2 separate regions of the Homo sapiens genome follow, and region 1 is linked to region 2. A link means that fine-mapping ties the variant in region 2 to the expression of a gene that starts in the linked region. Tissue or cell type: lung. Region 2 holds a variant in brackets; the other region holds the start of a gene. All regions are shown on one strand. Distances are from middle to middle.

Region 1 (9,034 bases), 44 kb before region 2:
ACATATATTAAAATCTGTTATATCTGAACACTTGAAACACTTGGAAGCATAAATATCTAAGCTGTTAAAAATTTTTCCAAATCAAGAGTTTTATGGATTTTAAACCCATTGTTAAAAGAAAAACTAATTCACATTAGAAAGAGACTTACTGTCCAAATTTCAATAAAACTTTGGAATATTTCATAGATAAGTAAGAAAAATGAGAATAATAATTTAGTTAACACAATCAGTGATTAACTTCTGTTAGACTTTTGATTTTTTTTCTTATAGCACACATTTTATTCTTTCATAAGAAAAATGATCTCCCACAACAATGTGTATATGTCTGAATGGGTTGAGGGATTGGAAACATTGTTTTATTAATATATGTTTAGTGAAAATAAATAGCTCTCAAATTATGTCCTATCACTTATGGTGTTTATATAGATGCTAAAATACTTTTGTCACAAAAGAGTTTCTGTTTTTTCCCCTGTAATTATTACTAATGGGATAATATTGGCTTATATAAAATAAATTGGAAATTTTACTTTAATTTTAAAAAATTGGGAATGGTTATCCACCACACATATCAGCTCACCAGCACAAGTGGACCATAGATAAGTACAGAGCAAACTAGGGGATACTATTGTCTATCTTTAACCTCTGACTGTGCTCACTCCTACCACGGTTCGGGTCACATAGATGGTAAGTTTTCAAAAGTACTGCTACAACTGGTGGTAGTCTCTTCTATTCCTTTAAAGAAAGCAAACAAATAAAAAATGATAAAAACCCTCACCATTTATGATATAATCAATAACAATAAATAAAAATATATACTAGATAAAATAATAAATAGAGAAGTACAGTGAAAATAGGAATTGTTGGGATTCAGAAAATGATAACTCAAAGTATGGCACTTTGGCATGCTGAGTACTTTGAACAAAAGGTGATTGAAAATCCCTTAAAAGCAAAGTCTCTCTCTGAACTTCTCATGCCCTCCTTTCTCCTTGCTCCCTTTTCTCCCCCAAGGGCAAGCCATAGAAACTAGAATTTCTCTTCCCCAAGGTGGATCATAGAAACTAGAACCCCTCTCTCCAAAGCCAGCCATAAAACCTAGAAATAGTATTCTAACATTCTCCCATTTTTCTGTGTAAGAGCTGACCATACAGAAATTCTCTGACCTACTCTGTCTGCAAGTAGATTATAAGACCCTCATTCTAAAAGGGGTCTTGCACTATCCCTGGAAAAAGGAATGCCACACAGAGAGACCAAGTAGAATCTTAACAGGCAGGCTTTCCTGGGTTTCCTCATTCAGTCTGTTGCTGTAAGATCATTCCCTTTTTGTCCAGTCGCATTTCTGCACGGCTATCCACTCTGCATCAAATCTAGGCATAAAAATGGACAGTTTTCCTTTGGATCTTTGGGTCTTCATTCTGAAGACTCCTGTGTCATGTAAAACTCTGATTAGATAAATATGTTATGCTTTTCATGTTAACCTGTCTTTTGTTAAAGGAGTGTCAGCTGTGACCCTTATGATGGGTGAGAAAAGACATCACGCCCTTTACCCACTACAGTGACATAAATATCACACATTATGTCTTCTGAATTTTCTAATAGCTTTATTGAGATATACTTAACATACCATAGTTAAGGCACACAGCTCAATGTTTTTTAGTATATTTACAGAGTCATGAAATCATCACCAAAATCTAATTTTAGAATATTTCCATCATCCCAAGATGAAACTCTGCTGATTAGCAATCACTCCCTGGTACCTTTCTTTACCCGATCTTATCCCTGCACAGCCATTAATCTACCTCTGTTTCTATAGATTTGCTCATTCTGTACCTTTCCATATGAATGGAGTCACGCAATATGTGGTCTTTGTGTCTGGCTTCTTTCACTCAGCATAATGTTTTTGAGGTTCATCCATGTTGTCACATGTATTAGTACTTTGTTTCTTTTCTTGCCGAATAGTAGTCTATTGTATGGTTATATCACATTCTGTTTATCCATCCATCAGTTGATGGACCTTTGGGATGTTTCCACTTTTTCTTATTTTTTTTTAAATTGACAAATAAAAATGGTATACATTTATGATGTACAATGTGATGTGTTGATATATGTTTACACTGTGGAATGAGTAAATCAAGCTAATTTACATATCCATCACTTCACATGCTTATCATATTTTGTGATACCATCTGAATTTTTGTATTACATCTCTTTCTGCTATATCAGCCAAAAAACAGATTCTAAATAAATTGATCTTAAAACCAGATGATCAAATCATTATCTCAAAGGGTTAAACAATGAGTTTAACAAAATTAAGCTTATTGCTCTCAGAAGTTATACATGATCAATAAAACCTTATGCTGTTAATTGGTTTTTGTGCTGTTAATAAATAAAATTAATTAGTTTATTAATATTATTTTTAAGTTTATCATATATTTAATAATAAATATGAATATTTAAATTTATAAATGTATCTATTGATAAATACTTACAAATTTTAAAATAAATATTTTTATCATATCTTTGCTTATCTTTTGTATATCATAATTATATAATATACTAGTACAGTAGTACATGTACAAAGCTTATACATGTACTACTGTACTAGTATATTATGTAGTTATAATTGGGTATATACATATAAATATACATATACTCAGTATGTATGCCCTAAATTTTTATCTATGGGGTACAAAATTTTAAAAAATAGGTTGGAAACAGATGTCTCATAAAAGTAACAAATAATTACAAAGCCTTTGTAGTCCAACAGTATCTGGCAAAGCACTAGATGTGCAGTAAGTATTTAAACTACACTGACACTGTGTTAGTCCATTCTCATGCTGATATAAGAACATACCTGAGACTGGGTAATTTATAAAGGAAAAATGTTTAATTGACTCACAGTTCCTCAGGGCTAAGGAGGCCTCAGGAAACTTATAATCATGATGGAAGGGGAAGCAAACATGTCCTTCTTTACAAGGCAGCAGGAGAGAGAAGAATGAGAGCTGAGCAAAGGGGTAAGCTCCCTATAAAACCATCAGATCTCATGATAACTTACTCTTTTCATGAGAATAGCATTCAATTACCTCCTACCCGGGAATTATGGCAAGTACAATTCCAGTTGAGATTTGGGTGGGGACACAGCCAAACCATATCACTCACTAACCACCCCTGAATGCAAAGGTGGCCATTTATCTAAGTTTTGTGTGTACGTGTATTTCTCCCTTGCCATATGCATTTTGGTGAATAGTTCTGTGTGAGTATATCTGTGTAGGATACAATGACAGAAACAGTAGTACTTTGTGTCTGAGAGTGCAGTTTCTGAATTTAGACCACCTGAATCTCTATCTTAGCTCCATAATTTATTAGCTATGTGACCTTGAGTAGATTACCATCTTTTCCATGTCCTAGTTTTCTTATACACAAAATCGGGACAACAGTACCTACCTACCTCACAGGTTTGTGGTGAAGGTTAAATAAGTTAATATGAGCAAAGTCACTATACCTAGGTCTGACACATGGAAAATGCTCATTGTAGTTTGGCCACCAGAGCTATGGACAGACACACACACACACACACACACACACACACACACACACACACACACACGGGTGAGTATATCTGGATATGTTTATTTTTCTATGTCAATATATATCTGTTCCTCAATATGTATTTATACTGAATAATAATAATAATGATAGCCAACACTTACTGAACATGAGTTCTAGGCATTAGTTTAAGCACTTTACATATATTATCTTGTTCACCTTCAGAAAAAAACATGACATAACATTACATAACATGCTTTGATTATTCTCATTTTACAGATTAGAAAACTAAGGTCCAAAAAGGTTAAGTAACTTACAACTAAATTCACACAGCTAGCATATGACAGAGCCACAAAGCCGGACTTTTTAAGTCACTACTTATCACCTCCCCATTCATTTAATAATATTATTTAATATTACTCTTATAGTCTATAATATCATAATTTGTATGGTGCTTACTATTTCATCAAATATTTTCAAATACATTGGGTCTCATAGCGAGCCTGTGAAATGAGAAGTGCAATATTATTATTCTCATTTTTACAGGAAAGAAAATTGATAGAACTGAACCATGGGTGTCCTTTAGTGGAAGCGTTTCTATGTTACAAATATCTGGGGTACCTCTGTACATAGAGTCACATCATAAATGAACTGAGTACCTATAATGTGTCAAGCTCAGACATTAGTGCTGGGGATATAAGCTACAGACCTCCCCTGGAAGCATCATAGCCTAGGAAGAGAGACCAGTGTGGTAACCAAGAACCAAGAATCACGGTACACAATATGTAGTCTCTAAGGGAGACATGAAAGGAGTGCTTATGGAGCACAGAAGGAGGGGCCATCTGTGCCAGGGAGGTCTTAGAAAAGGCAAAGGGGTGGGGGAGGGGGAGGCTTTGATGGAAGAAAGAATGTGTGTGTGTGAATGTGAATCCATGTCTGTGTCTATGACAGTGTGGCTAGGCATCACTAAGTATGGATCTGAGTGTGTACCTGTTTATACAGGCTTACTTCTGTAAGCATTAATTTTTGTGTATGCTGGCTGCTGGTATAGAATGAGTAAGCCTGAACATAAAAGGGAATTTGTCTGGTATCACACACACCATAGCAGAATTGGACCTGCCCTGATAGGCACACCCTGTCATGACTCCCCAACACCAGGGGAACCAGAGATGCTGGTCCTTTCCCACTGTAGCAGCTGCCCACTCTAGAGCTATGGTGATTAGACCCACCAGTTTTTTTCAATCCATCAGTATGGATGTGTGGTGGTCTAATAGAGCCAGCCAGCTTGTATGATGAAGGGGGAGGAGGTACAGGTGTCTGTGGGTGTGCATCTGTGTGCACACTTCTGGTTGTGTGTGAATGCTTAGCATTGGCTGTTCCTAACTAGAGTGAGAAAACCTCCCTTCTCCCTTCATTGTCACCACCTTGGGGTGTTTATCCACTCACCCATTTCCATTGCCACCTGTATGGGACCGGCTTCCATCTTCACTTTAACGTTCTGGGGATATCTAAAATATACCTCTGTGCTGGGGTTAGGCAGAAGCAAGGCTGGGGAGTGTTGGTGCCCTTATTTGTTGGAGGCACTCCCTCCTTTCCCCGACCCCTGCCCCATTGTGGTCCAGGAATCTCTCAAAGGAGCAAAAATGTGGGCAAAGGCAAATAGTACTTGTGGAAGCCATGAAAAACCCGGAGGGTCACTCCCAGGGGTGGGCTGCTCAATGTGCCTCCCCTGGTGATAAAATCTGCTTTTAGGGCAAAATTAAGGAAGACAAGTGAGGACTCCTCTCTCCACAAATGTTCCCCTAGGAACTGGCGGGGTGGGAGTAAGGCTGTAATGCTCTTTTATTTCTTTAAGCTTGTATGATCAAAACAAGCTAAAATAATCACAAATAATATGTTATTGATATTAACTATGAGTATCTTCATAAAGTGGCAAAATAATTGAACTAGATTTTATTTTTTATTATAAGGTATACAAATTCAGGGCCATGGGATCATGTAAGGCAAAGGCATTATGTACTGGGACACACTGGTAATTTGTGTTTACATCTTGGCACAAGCACTGCCACGCAGTACAATATATTAGCATGTTAAGATGGGCAAGAATGAAGTGCAATAATCAACACATGTAGCATGTCATATTTCAGCTTGAATGAATGAGTGGGTGGAGAGAAAAACAAACATACAGAAAAGTAGAATTATCTCATGTCGTGGTCCGTGAATATGTGGATTCTCTTTCTAGTTCCACCAATGGCTTAATCTATTGAAAGGTTCTTACCATCTATTGATAAGTTAGTCTCATAGCAGATCATTTCTCAAAAATGTTAATATGCTTAATCAAACCTTACTGAAGTATCTTTTAAAATGTAAATGATCTCTAATAAATGTTGGCTGTTGCATGTCTAAATACTTTATTGCAGCATCTTATATAGTATATATTTCCATGTTCTGGACACAAATATTTTTCTAAATATTAAGGGAAAGTGGTGGCTTTGTAATATGCCAGGGGAATTCTTTGATAGTCAATATATTGTTTATTTGTACTTAAATATTTCATCAATAATCTGGAAAAGAGAAATAGCCTGACTACGGCTAGATACTGTTTAGAGGCTAAGATTTCTATCATGAACTGCTTTTCAATTGTTATATTTTATGGCACAGATTCAGTGGGAATCTGATCTGCTAAAATATTTGGGCTGTGAAAACTCCCACACTGTGACAGATGTCAAGTCCAATTAAGTGACTCATGTCCAGGTTTCTGTCCAATAGGATTTCCCATTAAATATCAATTTAGGGGAAAAAAATTCCATCCCCCTTCCTAAGCCTTTATCTCTTCCACCATCTCCAGGCTGAATCAATTGGTACCAGGAGAGCCCAGAAGCCACACACGCATCTCTGCCTCTTTGCTCTGGCTCTCCCACCCTCTTCCCGTCTTTCTCTGCTTCCTTGTCACTGTTACTCCAGGAGACGTTCACTTTTCACCAACCTTTCTCCAAGCATCTCCAAGCCACTGACTATATATATTTTGCTACAAGGTAAAGAGAAGAGGGGCTGGGGACGGGGGATATAGCCAAACCTTGAAAGACTTTGAAACTGGAAAATAGGTGTCTATTTATACAACATACAAGTAAGTGAGGGAAGAGGAAGAGGCAACCTTAGCTCCTAGTTACAGTATTGTGTTCCTGGGAACTGGGGAGATATCAGCTGAACAAAGCCTTATCTCAAAAAAAAAAAAAAAATCACTTCTGAGCAAGATCACATCTCTGTCCTGCACTTCCCAGTTTCTGCTCAGCCGTATTAAGGAAAAGAAAGGCATACGATAGGAGCGGAATCTTATCTTAACCATCTTTCTTATTGATTATTCCGCTATTAGAAAGTGGAGGAATCAGCCCTTTGATGTGATTGTGTTTATCTCTGCATCTCTTTTGTTATTTTTAGAGACCTAGAAGAGGAAAAAAGGCACGAGACTTTTCAACACATCGTTTAAAAAAATCATCAACGAATTTCTTGCAATGTTTGAGAACAATTAAAAGGAAAAAGCGTTTTTTAAAAAATCTATCAACTAAGTGAACAATCATTCATATCGTCTACATCCTGAGATATTATTGTCCCTCGCTGCGGACACCAGCGAGATGACAGCTGCTTTTTCATTTTTGAATGTAATAAATATTTGCTGCTTTTAATATTTTCCGGAATCTCCCCTCGCTATTCCTTGGAATTTTAACTCTAAAGATTGGAGAACAGATTATCAAAAAGGCTTTTGCAAGGTAAGACTCCTTTAAATAATTTTTTTCAGCTTGAAATAAGTTAGATTATTCATACTGTATCTATAGATGCAGTTCATTCCATAAAGAGATAAAACGCATACACGGCATACTATTTATGAATATTTTTAAAGATCTAGAGGAGAATTTAATGTGCTTTGAGGGCAACCCAGGAACTTTTTACCAGAACTACAACTATTTAGTGGCTTATTGTGATTTTCCATTACTCGTCTATTTATTTCTGCCCTTTCAAGCTGACTGTGTAGGTGCAAGTTGTTCTACTCATAAACGTACCCGAGAAAAGCCCGTAGGGAGTCACATGCAGCTCTCTGGGAGCATTTGTTTTTATTTTGCCGTAGAGGACCTGATTTCCTCGCAGGGAAATTAAAGCTGTTTTGGCCCAATTCGCTCCTCTGCAAGTGCGGTGCTGGGAACCGATCACCCATCCCCTTGCTTTTGTTTCTCTAGAAGCAAACGCTCCTATACGTCGCCGACGCGGATTTCTCCCGTGCCGAGCGTCGTGGAGGCTGCCCACGCCGGGGCCCCGAGTTCTCAGCCTGGTCCTCACTCCCGACGCCCAGGGGCGGTGCGTGCAGCCCCTGCAGGGGCCTTTCTCCTCCTGCCGGGCCCTTTCTCGAAGCCCGAATTACCCGGAAGCCCAGCGGTTCTGAGCGGCCCCCTCCCAGAAGGCGCACAGTCCGGGCCAGTGCTCCAGGCGCCCCAGAGAAGCCTGGCCAGGTGGCGTTTCCAAGAGGGCACAGTTAAGTTAGAGGAAGGCTAAGCACCGACATGCCCGGACTTGGCCAGGCCACCCGGGGACAGCTGCAGCCTGCCGAGCTCCGGTTCCGGGAGCGCCCGAACTTTGCCGGCAGAGATGCAGCTCCCGCCGGGACAACACGCGCTGCACCCGCTAGTCCCCGCCTGCCCCGCCCCGGGCCCTTCCCTTCTCTTCCCTTCCCTCTGCATCCTCTCCTCCCTCAGCGGCCCGGCTGCCGGCATTTTCCCGCAAGGTGGTCGCCAGACTGCCGGGCGCATTGTCTGATCCCACGTCGCCGTGTCCCTAGGTCCCCTATGTGTGTGGCTGTCTGCGTGACAGATGGTGCTCCGGGAGCCTGCGAGGGCATCGGAGTCAATTTTCTTTTTAAAGGCTCCCCCACGTTTGTTTAGTCATTTCTTTACGATTTCGGAGAAGCGCGAGGGGTCCAAGAAGCCTTCCCGCCCCCAGCCACTGGCTCTCCGCCTGCGCTCCAGGATGGGGATTCCTGACCGGCCGCACCCCAGAGCCAGGCGCCCCCGGCGCAGCCCCAGACCAGCGCCAGGCCCTCGGGCGCCGCGGCTGCCGGGTTGCTTCGCCGGAGGCCCTCGGGGCGAGAAGTGCACCCCGCGTCTCCCCGCCCCCGTGAAAACCCAGATGTATTCGTTGTTCGAAATCGCTCGTTTGTCCGGGAAGGGGACGAAGGGAGGGAGGAGGAATAGCGCGGTTGGCATTTGGCCGGAAGAGGCACAAAAACCCAGTCGCGACCCCACAGGCCTGCGGTTGTTCCCCAGGCCCAGGGCCACAGGCCCGCTGTGGCCGTCTGCAAGTCGAGGTGTCCAGTCTAGTATGCGGCCTGGGTCAACCGCGTCCCCGCCGGCTCCCGCGCCAGGGCGAGGCGCAGGGCTCGCGCCCTCGGGCCAGATCCTATCGGCGCCCTCCCGCGTCGCGCGCCGGCCTGCTGTGGGGAGGG
Region 2 (11,825 bases):
CTGGCATAGAATGAGTACTCATTAATGTGATTTATTATGATTTGCTACTTTCTAACCTCAATTCTCCAACACCAAGTGGATATCTTAGAATTCAATTCAATTTTGACACTAACTACCCACAGTTAGGGCAGACTCTACAAGTTAAGGGCAAAGTTATTTGCTTTTGACACTAACTACTCGAAGTTAACATTAGATACCACAAGTTAGAGGGCAAGGTCCCCAATAAGACTGCCCTTACTTCAGATGTCAGCTGAAAGTAGTGTCCTTGGATATCTGCAATTCTATCTGAGTTGGCTACAAATTTAGGAGTTCCCATGACCACATTCTAGTCATTTACTAAAATGACTCACAGAATTTACTGAAAGCACACTAAAATTACGGTTTTATTATAAAAGCCACAATCGGAGAACACCCCAATGGAAGAGAAAAGCAAGGTCTGGGAGAAAGGCTTGGAGCTTCTTTGCCCTCTCTGGGTGTGTCAGCCTCCTAGCATATCAACCTCTTCACCAACAAGGAAGCTCCCCTGAACTATGGTGTTCAGAGTATTTATCTAGGGTCTCATTACATAGGTATCATTGATTAAATGATTGGCCAAGTGATTGAACTCAATCTCTAGCTCCTTTGCCCTCTTTGGAGCTGAGGAGGTGAGGCTGAAAATTCCAACATTCTCATTACATCTCGGTGTTTCTGTCATGGTCAGCCTCTCCCTTAAAACTAAGGTTTTACCATGAGTTGCCTCATTAGCATAAACTGAGGTATGATCAAAAGGGGCTCTTATGAAAACAAAAGACACTCCTATTATTCAGAAAATTCCAAGAAATTTTGAGCCAGGAACCATGGGCAAAAATCAACTACACTCTGTATTATATCACATTCAATAAATATTCTGAACATTTATCTTGAGCTAGGTACTATTCTAGGCATTGGGTATATAAGAATAATAATCTATGTTTTCAATGGTTTTCTTTAAATCATAAGACAGTGCCATATTCGGATCACAAGTTGGGATCACCAACCTTGCTTCACCTTCATAACTACTCATATAGAACCGCATCTCAGGGGTTTTGAGAATCAGAATATTTTCAAGCTGTGGGGCACCTAAGAATTTGTTAATACAAATCCACTCCTTCACAGATGGAGAAACCAAAAGTTAACTGCCAAAAGGTTACCCCATGACAAATGTCATGGCTGCCAATCTGGAGCTATTTCTGCTACACCATGATCATGGGATCAGAAACATTGCCATCTTTGACAACGGAGGGCAGTAGATATTTACAATCCTTTATATTAAGGACCTACTCATCTTCCTCTACCCACTTACTTATTATGGCCCTCAGAGTTGGTTCAGACGATGTATAGTACATGCTAGGGAGAGCTGTGGTCTGGAAAATAGACTACCATTGCATATTCCCTTCTTTTCTTCTTCTAAGTAAATCAGCTCTTCCACCACCAACTTCCACTGCTGGAGTAAAGATCCTAAAACTTTAGCTAGTCCATTCAATTCAGTATTTTGGGGGGCATCTACTATGTAAAAAGCATTCTACAAACTGTTGAGCCCACAGAGCTGAATAAGACTTTGTCTTACATACCATATGTACTTAACTTGAATGCAAAACCCAATGTGAGAAATGTGGTACCAAAAGCATAATTTGCTATTAGAATATAGGGGAAAGGGAGATTAATTACTGCAAAGAGTCCTAGTGAAACACTATTTTACAAGGTACTGACCCCCCATTAGTCTGAAGGCCAATGAGAAAGGATGAAAAAATATGTTTAGTATCTCCTATGCCATGCAAAGATACATTTTATTTTACTTTCAGTTTCCTAAATGAGAAAAGTTTTCAAATAATTTTGATTATGCACTCCAATTTATAAAGCATTCTGACAATGTTATAAATATATACATATTTAGTTATGTATAAAATATGAAGATGTACTGATATGTTGTGTAAAACACAAAATGTTGTATGATAATAAAAATGATAATTTTGTAAGATTGCATTTTTCAAAGATGGCCATATCAACATAATCTGTTCCTACCTTTTCATCTTGCAGTGTGACATTGACACTACTTGACTGAAAGGCTATGTTCCTTCCCCTTGAACCTGGCAGAACTTTATAACTGTGCTGGCTAACTAGACTAGGTCATAAAAGAAGTTAATGCTTCTGCCTAGCTCTTTTTCTCTTGGGACACATGCCTTGGGAGCCCTGAGCCAACATAGGAGAAGACGGCCCACATGGAAAGCAGCTGACAGTTAGCATTAGCTCCCAGCCTTCAAGCCAACCAAAATGACACCATGTGGAGGAGAGACAAGCTATCTCTGAAAGCTTTCCCCAACTTGCAAAATAGTGAGTAAAATCAATATTGTTGCTGTTCTAAGCCAGTAAGTTTTGGGATGAATTGTTCCGTAGCACAGTAACTGGAAAAAAATAAGAAAGATGAAATTAACATTTCTAAAATTATTTTTTATTAATGATACGAAAACTTTTTGTACTCTTTTATAATTATAATTCACAATAATATTTTTAGTGAGAGTAATGTAGTTGGATACACTTTATTTTTAAAAATCAAATTTAGTTTAATGTTTTACAATGTAGTAATTCAAAGTTGTGATTCTAAGCCTAGTTTATTTATCCACTAGATTTTCATGGCAGATGTAGCCAAAAAGATACCTCACTTCATGAAAACATAATACACACCATATAAATCATACCCTGTGGTTAATGATACAAAGCTGTATTTCAAAAACTCTTGTTAATTTTTAATTTTTTTGGCTGACTTTTTTCAGAGTTTATTATATCATCTTTGCTTTAATCTCATAACATGGCTGACAAACAACTCAGGCTAAGAGTAGAATGTTGGCTCTGCCATTCTGTTGTTTGTTTTAGTCTGCTATGTCTTTGCAGGAAACTCTCAATGCCACTAATTCATTTAGTGAGAAAGAATTTGGTTAAACTAAAGAATATACAGTTGATTCTAGAACAACCCAGGGGTTAGGGAAAACATCTCCCCATCCCCCCGCCCCCCTATCCTGCACAGTTGAAAATTTGCGTATAACTTTGACTACCTCAAAACTGAAGTATTAATAGCCTACTGTTGACCATAGCCTTACTAATAACAAGCAGTCAGTTAAACATATTTTACATGTTATAGGTATTATATACTGTATTCTTAAAGTAAGCTAGAGAGAATAAAATATTATTAAGAAAATCATAAGGAAGAGAAAACATATTTACTATTCATTAAGTAGAAGTAGATCATCATAAAGATCTTCATCCTTGCTGTCTTTATTTTGAGCATGCTGAGGAAGAGGAGGAAAAGGGGGGTTGGTCTTGTTGTCTCAGAGGTGGCAGAGGTAGAAGAAAATCTAAGTATAAGTGGACCTGTGCAGTTCAAACTCCTGTTGTTCAACGGTCAACTGTAATTGCAAATACAGGCATACCTCACTTATTTGTGCCTTGCTTTTTTGCACTTTACAGTCTTTTTTTTTTTTTTGTGCAAATTGAAGGTTTGTGGCAACCTGTGTCAAGCAAATCTATCAGCTCCATTTTTCCAATATCATATGCTCACTTGATGTCTGTGTCACATTTTGGTAATTCTCACAATATTTTAAACTTTTCATTATTATTACATTGGTTATAGTGATCTGTGATTGGTGATCTTTGATGTTGCTATTGTAATTGTTTTGGGATGCCATAAACCATACCCATATAAGAAAGTAAACTTAATTGATAAATGTTGTGTGATCTGACTGCTCCACCAACTAACCATTCCATGTCTTTTTCTGTCTCCTCACGTCTCCCTATTTCCTGAGACACAACAATATTGAAATTAGGCTAGTTAATAGCTCTAAAATGGCCTCTAAGTGTTCAAATGAATGGAAGAGTCACACAGCTCTCTAAATTGAAAGCTAGAAATGATTAAACTTAGTGAAGAAGGCATGTTGAAAGCTGAGACAGGCCACAAGCTAGGGCTCTTGCACCTAATAGTTAACCAAGTTGCAAATGCAAAGAAAATGTTCTTGAAGGAACAGTTCTTGAAATTCTTGAAGGAAATTAAAAGAAAATATGAATGATAAGAAAGTGAAACAGCCTTATTGCTGATATTCATAATAGTTAATAATAATAGTGTAGGCAGCTACACTAAACAACACATTTTCAAAGTAGATGAAATAGCCTTGCATTGGAAGAAGATGCAATCTATTGCTACAGCCACTCCAACCTTCAGCAACCACCACACTGATCAGTCAGCAGCCATCAACACTGAGGCAAGACTCTCCACCAGCAAAACAATTATGGCTCTCTGAAGGCTCAGATGATTGTTAACACTTTTTTAGCAATAAAGTACTTTTAAAATAAGGCATGTATGCTGTTTTCTAGACAGAATGCTATTGCACACTTAATAGACTTCAGTATAATGTAAATATAATTTTATATGCACTGGGAAACCAGAAAATTTGTGTGACTTGCTTTATTGTGATATTCACTTTATTGCAATGATCTGTAGCTGAAACTGCAATATCTGAGGTATGCTTGTTTCTCAGTGATCTGCTCACACCTTCTCTGTTTTCCACCTCTAGTACCTCCTCATCACCCTCTGGATAAATATCCAAGCCCCAACCTGGCAGACCATATTCTCCACTCCCTCACATGTACCTGGACAAAGCATTTTTTAATCCATTACAGCCTTTATTTAGTGTCTCACAATTAATGGTCATAT[A/G]ATAAATTGATACATCTAAATTCAAGTCTCACAATGAATGGTTATAGAATAAATTGACAAGTCTAAATTTAAGTCAAATGTGAAGAATACATTGCCTCTTTAAAATGTATATATACCTCACCAATGATAACCGACAGAAGAGGTCCCATTTACTTGTATAATGACCTCATATGAAATGGCAGCGAAAACTACAGAACAAATTTTTTTTTTTAAAGCAGCCTGAAACTGCAGTGCTAGGGGCACAGGTTGGGGGAGTCCTTGTCATACCTAAGGAGTCTGTCTCAACCATGGCATGTTTGTCTCTTGTGGCTACTGTGGACAGCATAGTGAAAATCGTCCAATGGAGATCATCCAATAGTTAGCGTTGATCATTTTTTCAACCTTATATGTACTATATCTTTATGTGATTTTTCCAGTGGGTTCTTCCTGCCCACTGCACAGGCAAAATCAATTCTCTGAGACCACAGCATTGGAGTAGAGAAAGAGTTTAACTGATGTGAAGCCAGCCCATGAGGAGGAACTGAATTTATCACTCAAATTAGTCTCCCTAAAAACTAAGACATTAGGGGTTTTAAAGGATAGTTTGGTGGGCAAGAGACTAGGGGATGAGGAATGTTGCTTGATTGGGTATGAAATCATAGGGGTGTGGAAAAAGGTCTTGATGTGCTGAGTTGGTCTCTGGGTGGGAGCCAAAGGACCAGTTGAGACACGAGTTGGGGGTCTGGGTAGGGTCAGCCCTCATTAGCAATGCAAAAGTCTGAAAAACATCTCAAAAGGCCAATCATAGGTTCTACAACAGTGATATTATTTACAGGAGTAATTGGGGAAGTTACAATTCTTGTGACCTCTGGAACAATGGCTAGTTGTCATTTAACTACGCCTACGTCTTAGCAGAAATCAGGCCCCTCATAATCCTAACCTTGTAAGCTTTCATTAGTTTTACAAAGGCAGTTTAGTTTTGGGAAGGGCTATTATCATCCTTGCTGTAAGATTAAACTATAAACTATATTTCTCCCAAAGTTAGTTTGGCCTACGCCCAGTAATGACCAAGAACAGCTCGGAGGTTAGAAGCAAGATGGAGTCAACTACATCAGATTGCTCTCACTGTCAGAATTTTGCAAAGGCAGTTTCATTTAGAGTCATATTGTTTTGTAAATATGGCTCCTATTATCTCCAAAAGCAAACTTTTTACATGGTATACAACTTTAGTTTTGAGATGGACAGTCATGGCAAAATCTAATTTTGTTAATAAAAATTTTTTTTGTAGCTGACCCTTTAAAGAACTCAGGTCTTCTATAAAGTAGGCATATTTATATTCCTGTTTTCCTTTAGGAATAAAGGAGGAAAATGGAATAGGCAAATGCTTTCAGCTGCCAGTTATTAATGTTGTGGATTACATTCTCTGTGGATTATCAGGGGTGTGTTTTTCATTCCGGGCCAACACTGACTGTTGTACCAAGGGAATAAAAACTCATTTTAAAATTAGCCCAAGCAAAAATAAATAATAAGGAAAGAAAACGCTTTGTAAAAAAAGAATAATATGATGCAGGTGAAAGCCAGATAATATGGTTTTGCTCAATCACCACTTTGGACTGTCTTTTCCCTGCTTTTGCTTCCATTTGCATGCACAATTGTATGTTGATGACACAATAAAAATGAACATTTATGAGAAAATGTTCACCGAGATAATCAAGATTTGCTAAACTCATACTTTACACAAGCTTACTTATCCTTCAGAGGCCACCCCCATCATTCAGGAAATTTCTTTTCCCTTAGATTCCAGGTTTGGTTTGCCTTTCTTAAGTAGCTGGTGGCCCTTCTATGGAAGGAGCCAGACTTTGTGCCTCAGCGTGTCCTAGGTGTTCTAATTGCATTTCCTTATAAAATTTTCTCAGGCTTTCACAATTCCCAGGAGGTCCTAAGATGACATTTCTTAATGCTCACATTTACTTTTTATTTTCCCCTTCCTTTCTCTTTTTTTGTCATTTGGGAAATATCCTGAAGATGTGGATTTTTTTATTTTTCCAAATATATAGTGACCTAAACATCTTAACTCCTGGCAATCTCAGTTTGTGAATATCTTCATCCTTTCTTATTTTCCTTTTTACAGAAGTGATAGCATCAAAGTTAAGAGGAGAGGGTAGAATTTATTTTATACACTTTTAAAAAAATGGTAAGTCTGTATGTATGTGATGGTAATGCAGCTATTGCGGTGACTGACTTAAAATATATGGTTTATAATACAGATAAAAGAAAACTGATTGCAAATTCACCTTCCCATAGATGGTAAGATGGCCCAATAGCTCTGGCTTTAATTGTAGAGTAAATACCCAGGAAATCTTTTCTTCTCCTGCCTTAATGAACAGCAGCATGTATCAGGGCATTGGCAAATCTTGTGAAATAATCCCTTGAGGGTGGCCCATTGGGATTTAAGCAGTCGTCTCTAAGAGCCAGTCAGCCTCAATGAACTGCTCCAGGGAATGTTGCTCTGACCTTCCAGAGTTGCTTGCCATGCTTCTGCGGGCAAGCCGCTAACCTGATGAACCGAAGGCAACTGGTTTTCTTGTCCTCAACTGGAAATCACAATATTTTCATGGACCCTTCTTAGGAAGTTAAGGAAGTGCCTTTTTTTTTTTAACTCCTTTTATTATAATGCTCATTACTTGTCCTTCAACTTCATTCAAAGTAGGTGAAATTGGTCTTCTACAACTGTCTACACAGGTGGATTACTCAGCAGATTTCAGTACAAATTGCTTTTTTCCTTTCCTTTCATAGTTCTCATTTTTCAATCTAGACTTACAAATGTAGTTATTTAAAAAAAAAAAAAAGACCTTTGGGCCTAACGTATTTTTTTTTAATTGTAGTTTTAAATGGAACCTACATTGGCCCGACTTCCTTTTGTCTGAATAAAAGCTTAAGCACAGTATAAAAGGGTTGCATGTGCTGAAATGTTGCCCAAGGATATGTGTTATTATTCCTCCCCCCTTGACCAGCAGGGTCTCAGTTCTCTTTCCCTTTCAGCCTTTTGTTTGAACAGATGGGATTGGGGAAGCTAGGGGAAGAAAGCCATTCTGTTCTCATTAACTCTCCCCATACACAAACACAACCTGGGCTTCAGGGACTCAGAAACGGGACAGCTCCCACTCCATTGCCATTGAGACCTGATGTACCGAGATACAAAGAAAGCCAGGCTGAAGACCCACATCACCGTATCAACGAGACAGCTAACCAGTGAAGTCACATTTATAGATGTTTTTAGACATACATTTATGAAAATAGCACCTGAATAATATACAACACAAATATTATGGGTATAGAATAAGTCAATCTGTCATATATGGTATATTTAATATATATTATTTTCAGAAATTCATTCATCATGGAGAGTGATATCTTGAGTGTTCTGTGAACTACACAATCCTTTTTATTTTTACTATATCTTTTCTGTATACAATAGAGTCAAAATATATGAAGAATGGTGGGGTTTCTCTTATTTCAAGCATTTTTGTGCAGTTGTAATATAAAAATTATTATTAAAGTTCCTAGTTTGGATGATCTTGTTTGTTAAAGCATTCCTGACCAAGAAAAAGTCACACAAAATTTTAAACTATAGACCAAATATTGAAGGCTCTCTCTTTATGGTCCTTTTAAAAGTATAGGACTTTTTGAATATTTTGAGAGAAAGGAAAAGATTTTCCACAACTAGATGAGAGTGTTTCTCTCCCGAGGAGTTAATTCCAGGAAGTGCTATCTTTTGTTCTGAACCTGGATTAGAAAGGGGTCTGGCCTATTTGTTAGATCATATTTGCTTTTAAATCTCTGTCCATCCTCATTACTATGATGAGGGTACTGAGGCAGAGATAAAGAGAGCTGAAAAGGCTCCTTCTTATGGCTAGATGCACCTGAGCTTTTGACGCCATGAGCCCTGCGTCCCAGGAGAGCAAGGGAAAAAAGAAAACTCTGTCCAGGAAGAGATACATTTATATTTCATAGCACATCCATGCATTCAGAAAGCAGTCCCAGCGGAGTGATATGCTCCTCTTCGTCTTCCAGGACTTCTAGATGTGTGGAATACACACAATAAAAACGAAAGAGATTTACCCAGCATCTTTCTTGGTAAGATCCCCAAATGGGGGGAAATAATTGTGTCAAAAGACAAAGCATTTCTAAAGGATAAACAATCCTTTGTAGTCCTATCAAACATTTCTTGGAGTTTGTTGTAAACACAAATTAGTTTATTTTATTTACATCTGAAGAAACTGAAGTACAAAATGCCCCAAGTCTGAGTTTACAGTCAGAAAGAGAAACTGAGTGAAATTTTTACTTTTTATTAGCAAACGTTAACTCATGAAGACAGGATACCAAAGAACTTGTTGAAAATAAAATATTAAGTCAACAGTACAGATTATGGTTAACATAAAAATATGTTGATATTTAATGTGGTGTTATTCAGTTTTTACCCAAAATTGTTTCCTGATATATAGAAACAGACAAAGATTTGGACTTTAACTGGAAAAGCTTGGGATATCTCTCAACATTTTTGCTCTCACATTCGGCTCTAATTGACTAGGCTGAGGACAGGGGGAGGTGACTGTAAATTGGACAAAACATTGCAAGAAAAAAAGGCCAATGATAAAAGGCAGCCAATCCCAAGGGGGGCTGTCTAGCAGGGTGCAGCAGGGGTCAGCCCTGGGTTTAGTCCTGTTTAATATTTTTATTACCAGTCTGAAGGGGGAAGGGAAACTGCATAAAAATGAATCTGCAGATGGCTGCTCATTACAGAGGATTTGCAGACCCCAGGAAAAGCAGGAACATAATTCTGAGGTTAGTTTGGAAAGATGATCAGAGAAGAACAAAGACAATACAGACTGGAAAGCCATGAAGTGGTGAATCCGAGGGAAGTAACTCCAGTGTGGTGGGTGAAAGGCATCTCATGCTGCAGGAATTCTGAAAATGCCCTGGCAGAGGTCATTAATACAAGCAGGTTTCGCCTCTGCTTGTTGGGGAACACATACATCATTTTAGGTACTTGGACTGGCAAGGTAAAGCTCTTTTCCACCTAACATTTATGAGATTGTCCTTAGATTGCTGAATTTGGTCATACGAATAGAAAAGGAATTCAGGTTAGAATATTTGACTTCATAATTGCAGGTGCTCCTGCTGAGGGGTGATTTAAGGGATATGGAAGGCTAAAAAGACCGGTATGTGACCAGGGTCTGTGCCATGGAGACATAGGAAGGCCATTCTTTGATATGCACAGGCAGGCTCCATCCTCAGAGCCTGTCACTCCACGCAGTTGGCTCCATGGACACACATTAGCACAAAGCCTTTCTTCAGCAGAACCCTCCCCACATGCCTAGCCTCCCTAGGACTGAAGTTTCCCAATGGTCTCATTGTTTGAAGTGCTACCCCTGAAACTTCTGCAAGTATTTCTTCTATCTTCCTCATCTGCTCAACAGAGAGAGTTCATCATCAACTTATTAAATCTCCCCTATGCTCAGCAATCCTCTGTGGCTCCCCACTGCCTGTAGAAATTAGGAAATCTTAAGCATTCTTTAGTTTAGGATTCTGATTATCTCTCAAAGAACATAAAGATTATGGCATTGTCCCTGAAATCAGATTGACTGACTTCAAATTGTATTCCTCACCAAAGGCCCACGACTAGGCACTTTCTTCACCTACCAAATGGGAATGATAAAAATAATATCAGCTGCCTAGCATAGTTGTCAGGGCCAAGGGAGGTAAATATATATCAAATGCTTATACAGTGTCTCATACACTGCAAGCTCAATGGATGTCAAGCTTTCCCTTTGACGATTATCCAAATCTTTTAGAAGTAATCTTCCTTGGTTTACTTATATGTGTTTTATTTTCCAGGAAAATATTTAACCAATCACATAAAAGTAATATTTTTATATGAAGTAGAAGCTTCATGAACTGCTTCATGTTCACACAGGTGCTGATGTTTGCAACTGATGCTTGTAACTCTGCCTGCCTCACAGCATGTCAGATAGCATCCTTCACCCTCTATCCTCAGCCAGACTTTCCAGCCTCAGCCACCCCTCCCCTGGTGTCTTCCAGGCATATCTGATTACTCACCTTCTCTGACCCACCATGGACATGATTACCCATGCTGTTCCCCCTACCTCACTTGCCTTGGATCTCCATGCCTCTGTGTGTTACTCAGCGACACATAGTAGCAAACCCCAGTTATTCTCTTTAAGACCGACCAAGGTGGCACCTCTTCTGTGAAGCCTTCTAGAACTACTCCCTGCCACCCCTTCTCTGAGAAATCTAGTCTCTTCCTGGGGGTTCCCACTATTGGAACTGCTGCATATCTGTTTCTATCTCTATTCTGACAGCTCCTGGGGTCAGAACTGTGTCTTACTCAACTCATATCTCAAATTCCTGGCACAAAAGTCCTCAATAAATGTTTGCCAACTGTTTTAGTTAAACTTGTTGAATTCATGAATGAAAGTTATTCTTACTAGAGAAAGTACAGAAAACCAAGGATCTCCTAGGAAAGGGGCAGATCTGAGGTATGGAGAGAGACAAGAGCCTGGTCTATCCACTAGGACCCCTGCTGGAGAGAGAAAGTTCTTTGAAATTAACAGTGGAACTCAGAGCCAGTCGCCTGTGGGACTGGGTCTGGGTTAGCCAAAGAGAGGTGTTAGAAATGAGACCCTAAATGCAATTCCACTATTGGAGCCGCCTCCTTCCTCCAGCACGCAGCAGCACGTCTGTCCTGGGACAGGCACACAGACTGTGTAATCAGGCTCAGCTGGTAATCAGGAAGCTGCCAAACGGACGCGAGACTAAATTATCTCCCTGTCCCAGACAAAGTGGCCTTCTAGATGAGGGTTAAAACCAGTGATGGTAGAGAAAACAAAGGAAGGAAAGTGGCAGCTGCTACCAAACACCTGGCCAGTGGACGGCTCCCAATCCGTCCTTATTCACTCACAGACCCTCTGAAGCCAGGGCTGCTTAATAAGAAACCGGTGTTTCAGACCTAGGGTACTTGGTGCCAAAGTCATCGTTAGAGGAGGAAAACAATTTATGCCCACAGGGACAACATAAGGGGGCAGAACCAGTTTCCTGTCAACAG

Direction of the effects. Positions count from the first base shown, and alleles are read on the strand shown. Sizes are in standard deviations (SD) of each study's normalised expression.
In carriers of allele A in region 2, the expression in lung of the gene that starts at base 6,400 in region 1 tends to be higher than with G alone (small effect, 0.35 SD a copy in GTEx).

Evidence for each region. PIP is the estimated chance that this variant, and not a neighbour inherited with it, causes the effect.
Region 1: NHLH2 starts here. The variant in region 2 is the best candidate, but not a certain one, in a credible set for the expression of NHLH2 in lung (GTEx, PIP 0.53).

What each region holds. Positions count from the first base shown.
Region 1 is chr1:115,838,492-115,847,525 of GRCh38, reverse strand. NHLH2 (nescient helix-loop-helix 2) reads left to right here and starts at 6,400. Exons shown (of 3, transcript NM_005599.3): 1 at 6,400-6,578; 2 at 6,982-7,310.
Region 2 is chr1:115,793,042-115,804,866 of GRCh38, reverse strand. No RefSeq gene overlaps it. Among named protein-coding and RNA genes, the nearest start is that of CASQ2, 30 kb to the right of the region's middle. The variant A/G (reference allele first, on the strand shown) is at 4,721.